Linked DNA regions of Homo sapiens: region 1 is linked to region 2. Evidence: fine-mapped expression QTL. Tissue or cell type: monocytes. Region 2 holds a variant in brackets; the other region holds the start of a gene. All regions are shown on one strand. Distances are from middle to middle.

Region 1 (6,495 bases), 160 kb before region 2:
ATTTCCATAAGGTCTTGATAGCAGATATACCACCAGACCTAGACAGCCCTATATGGGAGGCATGAGGCCTTATAACTTTCATTCTGGGGTGACCCAGCCTTGATGTCAGGTCATCAGCCCAACATTCGATCTCTATCAGCCCAACACCTGATTCCCAGGTCAGTTACCTACATCCTTGGAATCTTCTCTATTCAACTTTCCCTGATGGGTTGATGCCTGGTAGTCTACATTTCTTTTACTCAGAAGAAGAGGGATTTGTACAGGACTCTTCAAGAGGAGCAGGAAAAAATGACACAAAATCAATGAACAATGGATAGTCATGGGGAGAAGTATTTTCTTTTCCAAAGAATTCCCATTGGGAGCTCCCTTTTCCCTCTGGATACTCTATCATCCTGCCTTGTCCCTGGACACCCACCTTACCTTGGCCTCTGCCCAGCAGCCAAACACTGCAACTCCTCCAGAGACTGCTTTTTGTGTGTGTGCTCTGGCCCCTGGGGCTTTCCAGATTGCAGGAGGAGGCAGATGCTTAGTGGCTGGAGAGTCCTTGTTTCTTCAAGTCCTCAGAGGATACCTAAAAGTTAGACCAAGAGTATAGAGTACAAACTGAAGGAAAAAAGAAGATCCAATATTGGTAGGATTTGTGAAAGGCCACTATGTGCCAGGCATCCTAATAAATGCTTTTCAAAAATTAGTCAGTTTTCAGAATCTCCTGAAGTAACTGTCATCATTGCATTGACATCTTATAGATGAAGCCGAGGTTCATAAAGGTCACAAAGTTAGTAAGCAAGTGAGTTTAAGATCTAAATTCTGACAACCATAAGTCACTTTATTTTATCGTAGAACTATTCACACTAACAGTGTACTTAATATTTCAAAGTCCAGTTCACTCTTCCTCGTTCTGCCTGGGGACTCAAGGTAGGCTTTGCTAGTTAAATGTTTCCCATGACACTACTATCATGTCCTATTGAATGGAGAAGGGAAATAGGATGTTGGGGAGAGCAAGGAAGATGAGCTTTTCAAATTGGAGATAAGAAATGTGCCTGAGCACAAAGGTATGATAAGGGAAATGTTCTCCAAATAGATAATAAACCAGAGGTGGTAGAGTCAGGGGCCTTCAAAAGGAATGAAAATACAAGAGGCTAGAGGGGTGTATGGGGCCATGTTTTAAAGGTCATGACTTCTGCCTGGGCATCATCTTTGGGAAGAAATAAAGTTGAGAGAAAGAAGTCAACAGGCAGAAGATATAAAGTTTATTGTATTTTTAATGGCAAAGAATATATAAATATTTGGAAATATAAAAAATCGGGAGACAATGCTGCATATTCCCAGTTCCCCCAATCCTCAATGGAGACATAGGTATTTATGAAGATAATGGTGAGAGGCCATTTGTTGTCTTATTTTGAGGGGTGATGAGCAAGGAGTGGGAAGAGGCTTTGTGCCTTCTTCAGCCTAAACTAGCACATTCTTAAAGACCAGGTGGACTTCAGTTTAACTTCACATCTGATAGAAGACCCATTCTTCAAGCCTGCAAAATGACTAGTCCTACCAACACCTTAGTATTTTGAACTCCAAAACCTGTGCATCCTGTTTCCTGTAGGGTCATTCAGAGAGCAGGCCATAACATAAACATCAACTAGCATACTGAACATTGATAAGTGAACAGTCAAATGCAGAAGACAATTAAGATATGATTTAAGTAGCCCCAGCATGAGATGAGTCAGCTAAACTGGGATACTCTCTGCTAAGATTCAACCTGTTCCTACGGAAGCATTCAGAGCAGTAGTGGATCCTCACAAACAGATGGTGGCCTTAAACTCACTTTTTCATTCCCAGTCCCATGGCAGAAGACTTCCAAATAGAAATATTCCAAAAAGGACAAAGACCTAAGGTAACAGAATAATGATACAAGAGAAGGTATTCTACGTGGAAGCAAGAGCTTTCAACATCTTTGATTGTCCCTCCTTTGTCATTATTTGCCCATAGTCCTTGCCATTCAGCCTTTACAACCTGCATCATATAGAAGAATGCCTAGGATGACGTAAAACCAATCATTGAACAAAGCTGCCATAGCCTGTAAGAGAACAGAAAAAGCAGAGAAAAATAGGTAAGAGTTGTATATCTCAAAAATTGAGCAGAAATGTTTGATTTTGTGTCCAGCTAAAATTGCCTTCTTGTGTTCAAGATAATACGGCTAAAGAAACCCAAGAAATATTGACAAGGTCTTCAAACTTCAGAAAACAGTTCAATTCCTTCATCTCTCCCTTTTCAAATCTCCACACTGTACTCCAACACAAAAGAGGCATTTAGAAATACATAAAGATCTATCCTCAGGAACACACATGTCATCTCAGTCTATTGACTTGGCTATTTACATTAGTTGATGCAGAATCTTGAGGTCCTGAAAGTCCCCCGCCCCAAATATTACTAAGATTCCCCAGGAGGTACCTGTAGTAGTTATCACAAATGAAACCCCGTGTTCCATTTCTGGCATTCGTGCCCCAGTGTAAGCCCCTCTTCCTGAGTGGTGCTGGACCTAATGGTTCACTTCTACTGAATAGAATTCTGCAAAAGCGGTGAGATTTCACTGTCCAAATTAGTTATAAACACACAGTGCTTTCCATCTTACCCTGTCTTACTGTCTTTCTCACCCTTTAAAAGGTAACACAGTATTGATGATTAATGTCGATGGCTGAACTTGGCAAAGAGTGTGCAAAAAAGAAAAAAGACTAATCTTCTTATAAGAACTGACCCAAAAATACTAAATAAAATATTAGCAAATATTGGAGTGGCTTAGAATAGGGACTTCTCAAATGTTAATATGTATACTTTTTACATCAGTGTTGTAGGCATCAGGGGTATGTTAAGCTCCAGACTGAAGCCAAGAAAGAGAATTTAGATGCTGAATTTCTAGCTGATAAAGTGACATATAGGTCTATATTCGGTATCTCTAATGACTCCAACCTATTTGGATCCATTTTGTAGTCTTTTTTGTAATGGAAATTTGCACTTAAAATGGACTAGGACACACATTAGGCAGCTGAAGAAAGTATAGCATAAAAGGAAGAGATGATATAGTCGACAAGTGGCTAGATTTTAGGGTATAGTGGAAATCTTTGCCTGCAGACGTTATAACCTCAGAAGTTACGTTGAGGGGAACTAGGGATTAAGTCTGAAATTCATTAGGCCAAAGCTTTGTTCCTATTTGCCACCTCAGCATAAAGGCAAATGTCCGGCTTGTGTGTGTATGTGTGTTTGTGTGTGCATACACGCATGCGTGCAAGTATTGATACACAAGTCCCATGTCAATCACACAGTCCTTTTTGCTTAAGCTAATTTTCACTAGGAAGAACCCTGCCATATTTTCCAAGGGAATAAATTCATTTTGGGCCATCAAGAGCCAGCCATAATACCACCTAATGAAAAAATCTACAAGATTCTAGTTATTTCTTCACAAAAGTATCTCTTTTTTTATTACAGAGAATGCAACAGAATTGTTCAAACAGCAGAATATCCTTAGAGATGGATCAGCTTAATGAGTCTCTTGAGATTGAGGTTCAGGTCAAGACACATCAATTACTTAAGGTCTTTGGCCTCCTGCCAGGAGAATTTATCACTTCCAGCTCTCTACGTGTGTCCTTCTCTACAATTTCCATTGCTAAAAAGTTAACCAATAAATACAAGCACATTTTAAGTGAGCTTTAAATGTATTTTCCAAATTTGTCTGATATTTTCGTTCTAATAGTTTTGTTTCTGTTATTTTATGCCTGAATCTTTTAAAAACCAAAATTGAGAAGGTGAATATATTTTTTGTCTGTTTATATTGCTTCTTACAGACTTTTATTTATTTTTGGTCCTCATTTTTAAATTATGTTTAATTTTATTCTACCTGTTTCATAATGTCTTAACAAACAGGAACTATGATAAGAAGCATGGGAGCAACAATGGGAGAGTCCATTCTATCATCAGGAAAAGTCTGACCATTTATTCCCTTCACCCATTGTAACGTATATGGATGTGTTTTGGTCAAGGAATAAGCCAAGGCAGATATCCAGGCCTGCATGATTCAGCAAGTTTGTTGCACAGGTGCACACTTCTACTTGTTATATAGATTGTTTGTGTAAGTTCATACTTGGCTCTGAGCCACTATTGTCTGTAAAAGGTATAATTGCCTTGCTAACACTATACAGGGACTTTTGGGGCTTGGCTCAACTCAACATGGCTCTAGTGCAGGCGCTGGTGCCCAGAGAAAGAGAGCCAAAGCTGTCCATTTTGCAGATGGACAGAGGGGACCCACAACACAGCTCACACTGGTGCCCAGAGAGAGAAAAAGTTAAGCTGCTGACCCTGAAGCCAAGGGTGAGCCGGCTATGCAGCTGCAGGCATGGGGGCGGCAGGAGCCACAGAGCCAGAGCACACAGTTGAGATAAAGGTGGACAGTGTGAGAAAGTTGTTAATAAGAACTGCTGCTGAATGAAGTCATCTTTCACCTGCATATGGACCCCCGAGTGTTCTTTCTGTTCATCCACCCACTCCCCTCGGACTTCAGCATGGGCTGGACCTGAACCCTAGGATCTGACACCCATCTCAAGTCCTCTCAGAAGACTAATCAGATATAAACTTTCCCCAGCTGTAAACTGTGTAGCTCCACACAGATCCCCCCCTTGAAGCACTCATTACCTCATAAGCTGGGAGCTATCAGCTGCTGATAGTTCACACCTACATTTCTTTCAGGAATTACCTTCAGCCAAAGGGAACTCTATTACCCTAAATTAGCCACCCTCCGTTTGCAATGATTGTATTTAATGACTAGTTGATGGTGAGTTTAAAGGCCTGACTCCCTTGCCTAACTCAGGACAAGTGTGTAGGACCATCTCTACTCCAGAGTTTCTCGTAAATCAGCTGGGAAGTCTGATGAAACTCCGTTGTAATTCACCTTCTCCCTCTGCAAAATTCTGCTTCCTTTGCACCTGTTGAGACATTGTTTGTGAGCTTACTTTCTGATAAACTTTCAGCATGGAAAGGTCTCAAAGTCAGTTTCTAAGGAACCCAACTTAAGACAGTTGATAGCAGGAATGGCCCCAGAAAGTAGACTCTCAAGTGTGATTATAAGCTGGCAGGCTGGAAATGAGGACCCAGAAAACTGTTTTCTAAGTTGTCCTGAACACAATTAGGACAAGAGAATCCTTACCATGCTAAACCATATGCTTCCCTTTTCTTCTTCTTTTGCTAGTTTAAAAGATACTTTTTGATAGGAAAAATTCACTGAAAGTTAACTAATATTGGTTCTGTGACTTTATTCTGAGTTGGTTCTAGATCTGATCATAGAATCTAGGGAGTGATGTATATTTCACAATGTAGAGTTCATTTTCTTTACTGTCAAGTTTAAGATTCTAGCCCATGTCTGGCAATGGCAACTTTTTTTTCTTGTGAATCCTGATGTTAAATTTTGGAAGGTGAATTATGATACTGTAGTTACAGGTGAACACACTCAGGAGTCTCCCAATTTAAAAAATCAGCACCAGCTCTCAGCTGCCACTTTGCTTCTGGTTTAGTGGGTTCAGGAGCCTCCGTGGCTCCAGCCAATCCAGGCTTCAAGAATTCTGACCAATGGCGTTCCCTCACCTTCTATTTAAGTTAAACTTCAACTCCTCTTAGGCTTTATAAGCCCCTGACTGAAATGAGGTGGGTGGGGTCTGGGTAGTTTGGGTGGAAACTGGGAGACTTCTAAGTTAGTTTCTCCTTTCTCTCTGTGTCTTTCTTTCAGCTTTTTCTGTTTCTGCTTACTTTAAGAGATAAGAAATTCTTTGCTGATTTGCTGTGAGAAAAAACAAAACGAATAAGGCACCTAGGTTTAGTTCTGTTTCCTTCCATCTTTCTCATAATCTCACGACTTGCCCGGGAAGTGAAGACTCGAACAACAAGCTCAACATTCCTCGCTTTCTCTAATGAAATAGTGAAAATCAGCACTGAACTGAGATGCTTTGGGCTAGTGGAATACTAGAAAATACTTCTCAGTTCCGGTAAACCTCATCTTTTCTCTCACCACTTCCTTTCTGTGGTTATTGTGGGGCCATTGGAATAACCCCAGACTAGGCATAGTTCCTAAAGAAGGGCCTCACTAAGAGGCTGGGATGGGAGCATTAACCCTGCTTTCCCTAGGAAGGCTGTTTCTAATTCGTGGGCTTAACGTCCCTTATAGCAGAAGGCTTAGAAGAAGGACCTTTTTGGCTGGACGCGGTGGCTCATGCCTGTAATCCCAGCACTATGGGAGGCCAAGGCAGGCAGATCACCTGAGGTCGGGAGCTCGAGTGCCAGCCTGATCCAACATGGAGAAAACCCATCTCGGCTAAAAATACAAAATTAGTCGAGCACGGTGGCGCATGCCTTGTAATCCCAGCTACTTGGGAAGCTGAGCCAGGAAAATCGCTCGAACCTTGGGGGAAGAGGCTGCGGTCAGCAGAGATTGTGCCGTTGCACTCCAGCCTGGGCAACAAG
Region 2 (8,300 bases):
AGTGTGATCCCTGTTGCTTTCAGACTGGTAGACAGTCAAATGACAAATCCTACCATGAGAGTTTTCTTTCAAGGACCATTCCTCATATTGTTCTTCTTAGCTTGGATTCTCTAGAAAACAGAGCCTGAGACAAAACCACACGTGCAAGCATTATACTGGAGAGTGTATTATCTTTCCAAGAGTGAGAGAAAAAGGGAGTGAGGCAGGGAAGGAATGCATTATTGAGCTGCCACCAACTTAGCCACAAGCTGACTGCTCAGTGCCCCAGATGTCTTCCAAAGGGCTCTCTGGAGCTGCTACACCTCAACACAGACCATATCGGGGGGAAAAGAAACGCAATTTATCCAATGATTCCTTATCTTCCATTAGTTAAAGTCCACACCTATGGTGAATTAATTCCCTTGCACTTCCAAGTTACAAATGTGTCAGTGACCAAGCAAAGCCATAATATTTCATTCCTCAGAAGCAACAGGGAAGCTGTTAAAGCTAAAGGGTGTTACAAACTGAAAGTTTCACACAAAATTCATGTGTGAAAGCCCTTACTCCCAATGTATGTGACTGTATTTGAAGACAGGGCCTTTAGCAAAGTAATTAGGGTCAGATGAGGTCATGATAGTAGGGACTTCATGATGGGATTACTGTCCTTATAAAAAGAGACACCAGAAAGCTTGCTGGTGCTTTCTCCCCACCACATGAGGACATGGTGAGAAGGTGACCATCTGCAAGCCAGGAAAAGAACCCATTCTGGCAAATCACAGACTCAGATTTCCAGCCTCCAGAACTGTGAGAACACAAATTTCAACTGTTTAAGTCACAAAGTCTATGGTATTTTGTTACAGCAGCCTGAGCTGACTAATACAGACAGACATGCAACAATACCAGCAAAGGCATGAGGTACAGTGTATTCACTCATTCTCACAATGTTATAAAGATACCACCAGTGACTGGGTAATTTATAAAAGAAAGTTTAATTGACTCACAGTTCTGCGTGGCTGAGGAGGCCTCAGGAAACTTACAATCATGGTGGAAGGCAAAGGGGAAGCAGGTACCTTCTTCACAAGAAAGCAGGAGAGAGAGCACTATCATGAGAATAGCATGGGGGAAACTGCCTCCATGATCTAATCACCTTCCACCAGGTCCTTCCCTCAACACATGGGGATTACAATTTGAGATGAGATTTGGGTGGGGACACAGACAAACTACATCATACAGCAATGTTAGGATGTGTCAGGAACCATATGAGAGACTGAGAACAGTCACTGCAACTGGACCTGTAGCCTGGGGCAAATACAGAAGCAGTAACAAGAGCAGTTTGGCTCTGCAATCGCAACAGTAGCACAAGCAACACCTAGGGGCCTCTGGCTGCCCAGGTAGCCATCAAGGCAAGTATATGGATCCAAGTTAACACAAACTGAGTTTGGTACCATGAGGAAACAGCTAAAGAGTTTGAGAATGAAAAAAAGTGAGGTAACAGGGGAAAGCAGAAGTACAAAATCTTGGAGAAGTAGTGGTGTTGGGAGTGATCAACAGTGTCAAATGCTACAGCTATAGCAATGGATTGGGTATTGATGTGGTCTGACTCTGTGTCCCCACCCAAATTTCACCTTGAATTGTAATCCGAATTATAATCACCATGTGTTGGGGGAGGGATCTTGCAGGAGGTGATTAGATCATGGGGGTGGTTCCTCCATGCTGTTTTCATTACAGTAAGTAAGTTCTCACGAGATCTGATGGTTTTATAAGGAGCTTTTTCCCCCTTCACTTGGCAGTTTTCTCTCTTGCCATCATGGGAAGGACGTATTTGTTTCCCCTTCCACCATGATTGTAAGTTTCCTGAGGCCTCCCCAGACATGTGGAACTGTCAGACAATCAAACTTCTTTATAAATCACCCAGTCTCAGGTATTTCTTCATAGCAGCATGAGAACAGACTAATACACGTATTAACAAATGGAACTGGCAATATATAGTTCATTGGAACATTGACAAAAGCCATTTCAGTGGAGCTATAGGGCCAAACACCTGATTGGTATGAACACAAGAGACGGTCAAGGAAAGAACTGGTGCAAGTATAGAAAATTATTTCTTTCCAAGTTGTGAGTAAAATTCTTTTGAGTTTTTGTCGTAGGTGAGTTAAAAAGCATGAATAAGACCTACTATTTGATAGCACAACAGGGTGACTATAGTCAATAACTGTACATTTTAGAATAACTAAAAGAGTGTAATTGGATTTTTTGCAACTCAATGGATAAATGCCTGAGGGGACGGATACCCCATTCTTCATGATGTGCTTATTTCACATTGCATACCTATATCAAAACATTTTATTTCTCATAAATAATAAACACCTGTGTACCCACAAAAATAAAAAATAAAATTTAAAAATTCGACTGACTTCTGTCCTATCTCCCTCAAAAGTATTCTCTTATACTGGTCCATGGAAGGAAGTGGTAGGACATAACTTTACTCAAAGGGGCATTTTTCCTTATATTCTTCTAATCCACAAAGCATTCCAATATAAATAAATTTGCATTCATCATAACTTCACATCACTCTGAGTGAATTCACAGCAATTGCTCATTGAATCAGTCACTGTAGGTTTCCTTTTTTTTTCTCTGTAAAGGGAAAAATAGCTCTGTTTTACAGAGGACTATTAGGAAATCATTTTTTCCATGGCCAATCCATGAACAATGTAGGCCATTCTCGGGAAGACTTGGCTTTGAAGAACTTGGGACATGCATCCTGATTTTTATAAGCCTTCTCCTCTTCCTCCTCTTGTCTAGGACCATCCTCCCCTCCAATCCATTGTTAGTAGCCAGGCCTAGCATAAGTGTATGCAAAAAACTTTTCCTTGATCCAAAAATATATAAGGTGAGTCAGTCACTCATTCCCAGTCACCAAAGACCCCACTCAGCTCTAGAGTGTTGCAGACTCAGCATATACTGTCCAGTTAACCCAGGACAAGCGTTGGTAGCTGGAATTATATACATGGAACTTCTTAGACCAGATTTGGATCTTCCCTTTGGAACCTAAAGTCCTTGAGAGGTTCAGTTATGAATTAATAAACCCAGGGCTTCTATAGAGCAGTGTAACCGTGAACAAAATATTTGCATTTGCAACCAACCACACAATTGGCTTTTTCCTCCCAAAATCAAAGTTACCTTATACAAAGTATATAATTACATATAATAATTACATTAATATGTGCTCCCATCTATTGAGCTCAACAAAAAATTATACAATCAATTGCCTTTACCATTTTTGAGGAATTCAGTCTTTCATTTATTCATTCATTTAACACATAAATGGCTTACCATTCTCAGGGCCATGTTAAGCACTAGAGTTAGACAACTCAGGAAAAACAAACATCGTCATCGTGTTTGCAGTGAACAGGCAAGATGGGCACTAATCAAATAACCACACAAACATACATAAAATGGGTTCTCTGTCGGTTTTAGTGCTTTATATATATTTGTATTTAAATCCTCACAACCTCTCTATGAGGTAAGTATCCCCACATTATAACGATGAGAAAATGGAGACTCAGAGAGAGAAAGTGACTAACTTAAGATCACACAGTTGGTATGGGCTGGAGCTGAGATTTTTTTAACTGAGGTTTTCTGCATGGGTGGGTGGCAGTCTGATTAGCATAAGAATTTAGAGCAGGAGCTTTAGATTTATATACACTGACGTTTTAAAAAAAAAATTCCGAAATCTAAAATCCACTGTATATCATACCCTAATAATCTTTAACTGGGTAAACTAGTAGCAAAGCTTTTTAGAGACCATCTCAGGACTCCCTTTGTGTCACTCTCAGATACTACAGTACTGTAGCTATTTGGCCTGTGAGGCAAAAGAAGGCATTATGAGACATGCCGAGATGCCTGCACACTGAAAGTAAAGTTGTAGAGGCATAGACCCCCATATCCCTTCCAGCTCTTGAGGTCAATGCAGTCATGAAATGGCCAGCAAGGAAAATGGTCATGCATGGGGATAGAGATTAAGGGTGGGTGGGAGCAGTGTCCAAGCTCAGAGCTGTTGTGGATAAAAGACAAATATGACAACGCCCAAGATCCCTACAATGCTAGATCGGATATCTAATATCCAAGCTTTATTCTGGTAATCCTCTGAATGGGAATTGTCCAGCCTGAGCTCAGGGCTCTGTATTCTTTTAACTGTGAAGGATGCCTGTGGTCTTGAATACCATCATATCAGCCTAAGGTTTCTGATAGAGGTTGGAGGGAACCTCAGTGAGATGGACATGCTGGCTCCCTGATCAGAAACTTTGTTATTGGGGTGGTAAGTGAAGCAGACAGAAGGGCCTGAATAACACTCTTGCTTATTCAGCTTAAGATCTGTGGCCCTGATAAAAAAAAAAAAAAA[C/AC]CTTGCTGTGTAAATGTACAAGATATCTTTTCAAGTGACCTCCTTTTCCAAAGTGGCTGGTCAAACTGGATATAATGAAACTTTTTGTTGGCTACTACTAGATACCATGATAACTTTAAATTCATGATTTGCTATCCTTGTTACTTGAGCTCTATGGGCAGGATCTGTGACTTCAGATATATCTATCTGCATTGGCAGTGGCCTCCTAGTTTCTGATAGGCACAGGACCCTGAGTTCCTTGGAACCCATACTACAACGGCCAATGAAATACAATCCAGCAGGGGAAACAACCATTCCAACTAGAGCTGCTTGCACAGGATTCACAGCTCCCACCCTGCCTTCTTGCCTCCAAATTCCTCATTCTCTCTTGTCTGAATTCATTAAAATTACACACAAAAATGACCACAATCATTAAATTCCCATTTGTCTGGATGGCCATAGAAATAGACACTGTACCTTCTAACAGCTCTATCATCACTTCTTTTAAATTCGAGTGGTTTTCCACTAGGAATATCCCTATTTCAATTCTTCAAGAAACTTACAAATATTTTAGAACTGAGCAGGCCAAGGGATATGATAGTGCTGAAGTGAGACATCCTTCAGTTTCTGGGTAAACTTCCTTCTAGAAGTTTGGAAGCAGCTTTGGAAAAAGCACCACAATAAACACAGCTCTCCTCTCTGAGCTGCATCCTTAGAGAAAGTCTTCGACCATGTGTTATAGAGAATTACACCTTGTCCCCAGTCTCTCTGACATCCATCTTTATCTCATTCCATTCTAGTTTATCAACTGCGTGTTATCCCCACAGGCCTCAGACATTCAGATGGCTCAGTCCCCTACCTTCCTGAGGATCCACTGTCAAGAATTTTTTGCTCCTGCATCTACCCTACCCATTTATTCTACAATATGTATTGAGCACCTACTGTATGATAGACATTGAACTTGGAGCTGGGAATATATCAGTGCACAAAATAGCCCTGCATCCCTGGACTCATGGAGCTGACATCCTAGCAGATCATCAACTGTGAAAGTGGACTACTAGTCCACCCTTATCATTGGTACCTGAGAAACTAGCACTATCCAGAAATTATAGTGAGCAACTTCCCTAGGCTTGGCAATGCCAAACTTTCTGTAATGCACGATCAGAAATGCATAAAGAATCAAGAGGAAACTACCACTCCTTAATCTGTAAATAACTGCAAATAAATTTGGCATGTACACTGTTGCCATACATGTTTCCCTACCACCCACCACCCTTTTTCTGATTCTTGTTATATGAGCTGGTTAAAATTAAATTTGGGAAAAGAAGGCCAGTATTAAGGTGAATATAGTTTACTATAGCTCTTCCTTAGGCTTATAAATCAAATGAGAAAGAAAAATCCAGGGGAGGGGAGGGAAGGAGAGAGGTGCCTGTACAGGTAGATACACACACACATTCTCTCGGTTTGGTTAAGCCCTCTGGATAAGAAGATATTACAGCATATATGAGTTTGAGATAGTTCAGCTCTAATCAGAGCAATGAGAAGATTATCAAGGTGATACTTGAATAAGGCTTACAACACTTTTAGTCTCCAAAAACTGTAACACAGCTGAATCACTCAAAAACCTCAAAAATTAACTCTCCGCAACCACTCCTCCCCTACCCCAAATCTCAGGGTCATGTGTCAGGGTCCTTCTGCTATTCTAGAAAGCATCAATCCTCTTCTGCTGGAAGTGCTTTAGGAGGCTCTGACGGATCTGCCTAGACTTGATGCAATACACAATGGGGTTCATGAAGGGTGGGACCAAGAAGTGTAGGTTGGCCATGAGCACTGCCAGAGCAGGGTAGTCATGCTTCTTTACTCGGTGCAAGACAGACAGCCCGTTTGGGCAAATAAAAGATGAGAACAATGCAGAGGTGTGAGACACACGTGTTGAGTGCCTTGAGCCGCTCCCCAGGTGATGCAATGCCCAGCACAGTTCATAGGATCAGGGCATATGAAAGCATGATGAGGAAGGAGTCAAGGCACAGTGAGAAGAGGATGGAAACCAGGCCAACCAGGCTATTGATCTGGGTGTCTGAGCAGGCCAACCCCACAAGGTCACAGTGCAGGCAGTAGCAGTGACAGAGAGCGCTGATCTTGGGAAAGAGCAGCTGCTGCAGGAGGATAGGTCCCGGGAGGTTGAGCAGAACAGCCCTCACCAGAATGGCAGTTCCCACCTCGGCTGTGACTGAGCAGGTAATGATTATGGCATAATGCAGAGGGTCCCGGATGGCAATAAAGCGATCGAAGGCCATGGCCAGCAGTACACCGGACTCCACATAGGTGAAGGTATGGATGAAGAACATCTGTGCTGCACAGAGATCAAAGGGCAGCTCACGAGCTCCCAGCCAGAAGAGACGCACCATAGTGGGGAAGGTAGAGGCACAGAGGCCCAGATCAGAGGCTGCCAACATGGACAGGAAGATATACATGGGTTCATGTAAGGCTGGATCTGTGTGGATCAGGAAGAGGATGATATTATTACCCAGGATGGAAACCACACAGAAGAGGTTGATGGGGATGGAAACCCAATGATGAGAGGCTTCCAGGCCTGGAAAACCAGTGAGGAGGAAGGTAGACTGACCAGAAGTGCTGGTGTTGCAGGAGAACATAGAGATTCCAGGCAGTAGTTGTCCACCCTAGGAGTAAGAAGCATTGTTCATTTGATCATTACTTATAAAGTCCCTAGTAAGTGTGGGCTTGAGAAAGAAGAGCTACCTCATAACCCTTTCTTAGGCTATGAAACAAACTCCATTCATTTTAGGAGCTCTATTTCCTTCTGTTTCCTGAGCTTTTGGGCTTGAATAAAATGATATAGCACTTTATTCTATTTTTATTCAAAAAGAGAAAGTTTCTGAGTTGATCTCTGCTTACTGCTTATGGCTATTTCATTAGCCACTATTTTCCCTTTGGCCTAAACAATCTTTTTTTTTCATTTGTTAAACCTAAAAGTCTCCCACTCCAGAGTGTCTTCTCAGACTAAAAACTGAAGAAAGGAGAATAATTTTATGTAGAAATTTAAAATTATATTAGAAACAAGTTTAAAATCCACTTCTACTTATTCTTAGAGGTGAGTTTTCCAGTCTGACAGATCTGTTAACAAATACACCATAAAAGCCAAACTCAAACAAATGAGGTATTTTCAAAACCATCCTCTTAGAAGGCTGGTTGCATATTCCTCTAGTGCGGTCATAGAACCAATATTTTCTGTATTTCTTTTCTAGAAATGCCTTTGGGGCCCAAAACAGGTTCTTTAAATGTGCTTAATGATGAAATTTATTTCCTATGAAGATGAACTGGCTTAAAGGAAGTAGTCAATAGTTCTTGATATTAAGAACTGGTAAACAAGATAGTAGTTTACCAGACACATTCAATTTTGTTAATCTGCTTCTTTACCAACTCTACTTTCACTTTATAAGCTGCTTAAAGCTTGCATGTTTTATTCTGGCCCTACCTTCAAAACAGTCCTGTGGCCATAAACTCAATTAGAAGGAACTTTCCTCTTAAATATCTCTTCTTCAGCCCTCCTACTATGAAACTTGTTATGATAGGGCCAAGTACTCTGAAGTACTCCCACATTGGGGGCAGAAGGTGGAGGCTGACATATCTTGAGGCGCATCCCCTGAAGGGTCAGGCAGAGCATCATAAACTTCCAGAACCCCAGGGTTAATCATGTTATTCCATGGAGGTCAAAGTGCAGTGTGTGAGCTCATCTGTTCTAATAAACTCACATAGCACTTTCAGGCTACACTTTCTTTCCAACTTCTCTCCTTAAAACAGGACTACATCTCCATTTATCTCCTAAGCATCTCACATGGTGACTCTGCAAGATATTAAATCTATATTGCAAACCAAACTCTAATTCCCCCACATCTCCCCAAAGCTCACCATTCAGCAC

Alleles and levels. Alleles are on the strand shown, and positions count from the first base shown. SD is a standard deviation of normalised expression in the study named.
For the expression in monocytes of the gene that starts at base 4,216 in region 1, C is the high allele of the variant in region 2 and AC is the other (large effect, 1.5 SD a copy in Fairfax 2014).

Evidence for each region. PIP is the estimated chance that this variant, and not a neighbour inherited with it, causes the effect.
Region 1: C11orf40 starts here. The variant in region 2 is fine-mapped to the expression of C11orf40 in monocytes (Fairfax 2014, PIP 0.95).

The regions. Positions count from the first base shown.
Region 1 is chr11:4,575,541-4,582,035 of GRCh38, reverse strand. C11orf40 (chromosome 11 putative open reading frame 40) reads left to right here and starts at 4,216. Exons shown (of 4, transcript NR_172945.1): 1 at 4,216-4,356. OR52I2 (olfactory receptor family 52 subfamily I member 2) reads right to left here and starts at 293. Exons shown (of 2, transcript NM_001405760.1): 1 at 172-293.
Region 2 is chr11:4,416,774-4,425,073 of GRCh38, reverse strand. It overlaps the pseudogene OR51R1P. Among named protein-coding and RNA genes, the nearest start is that of TRIM21, 27 kb to the right of the region's middle. The variant C/AC (reference allele first, on the strand shown) is at 4,382.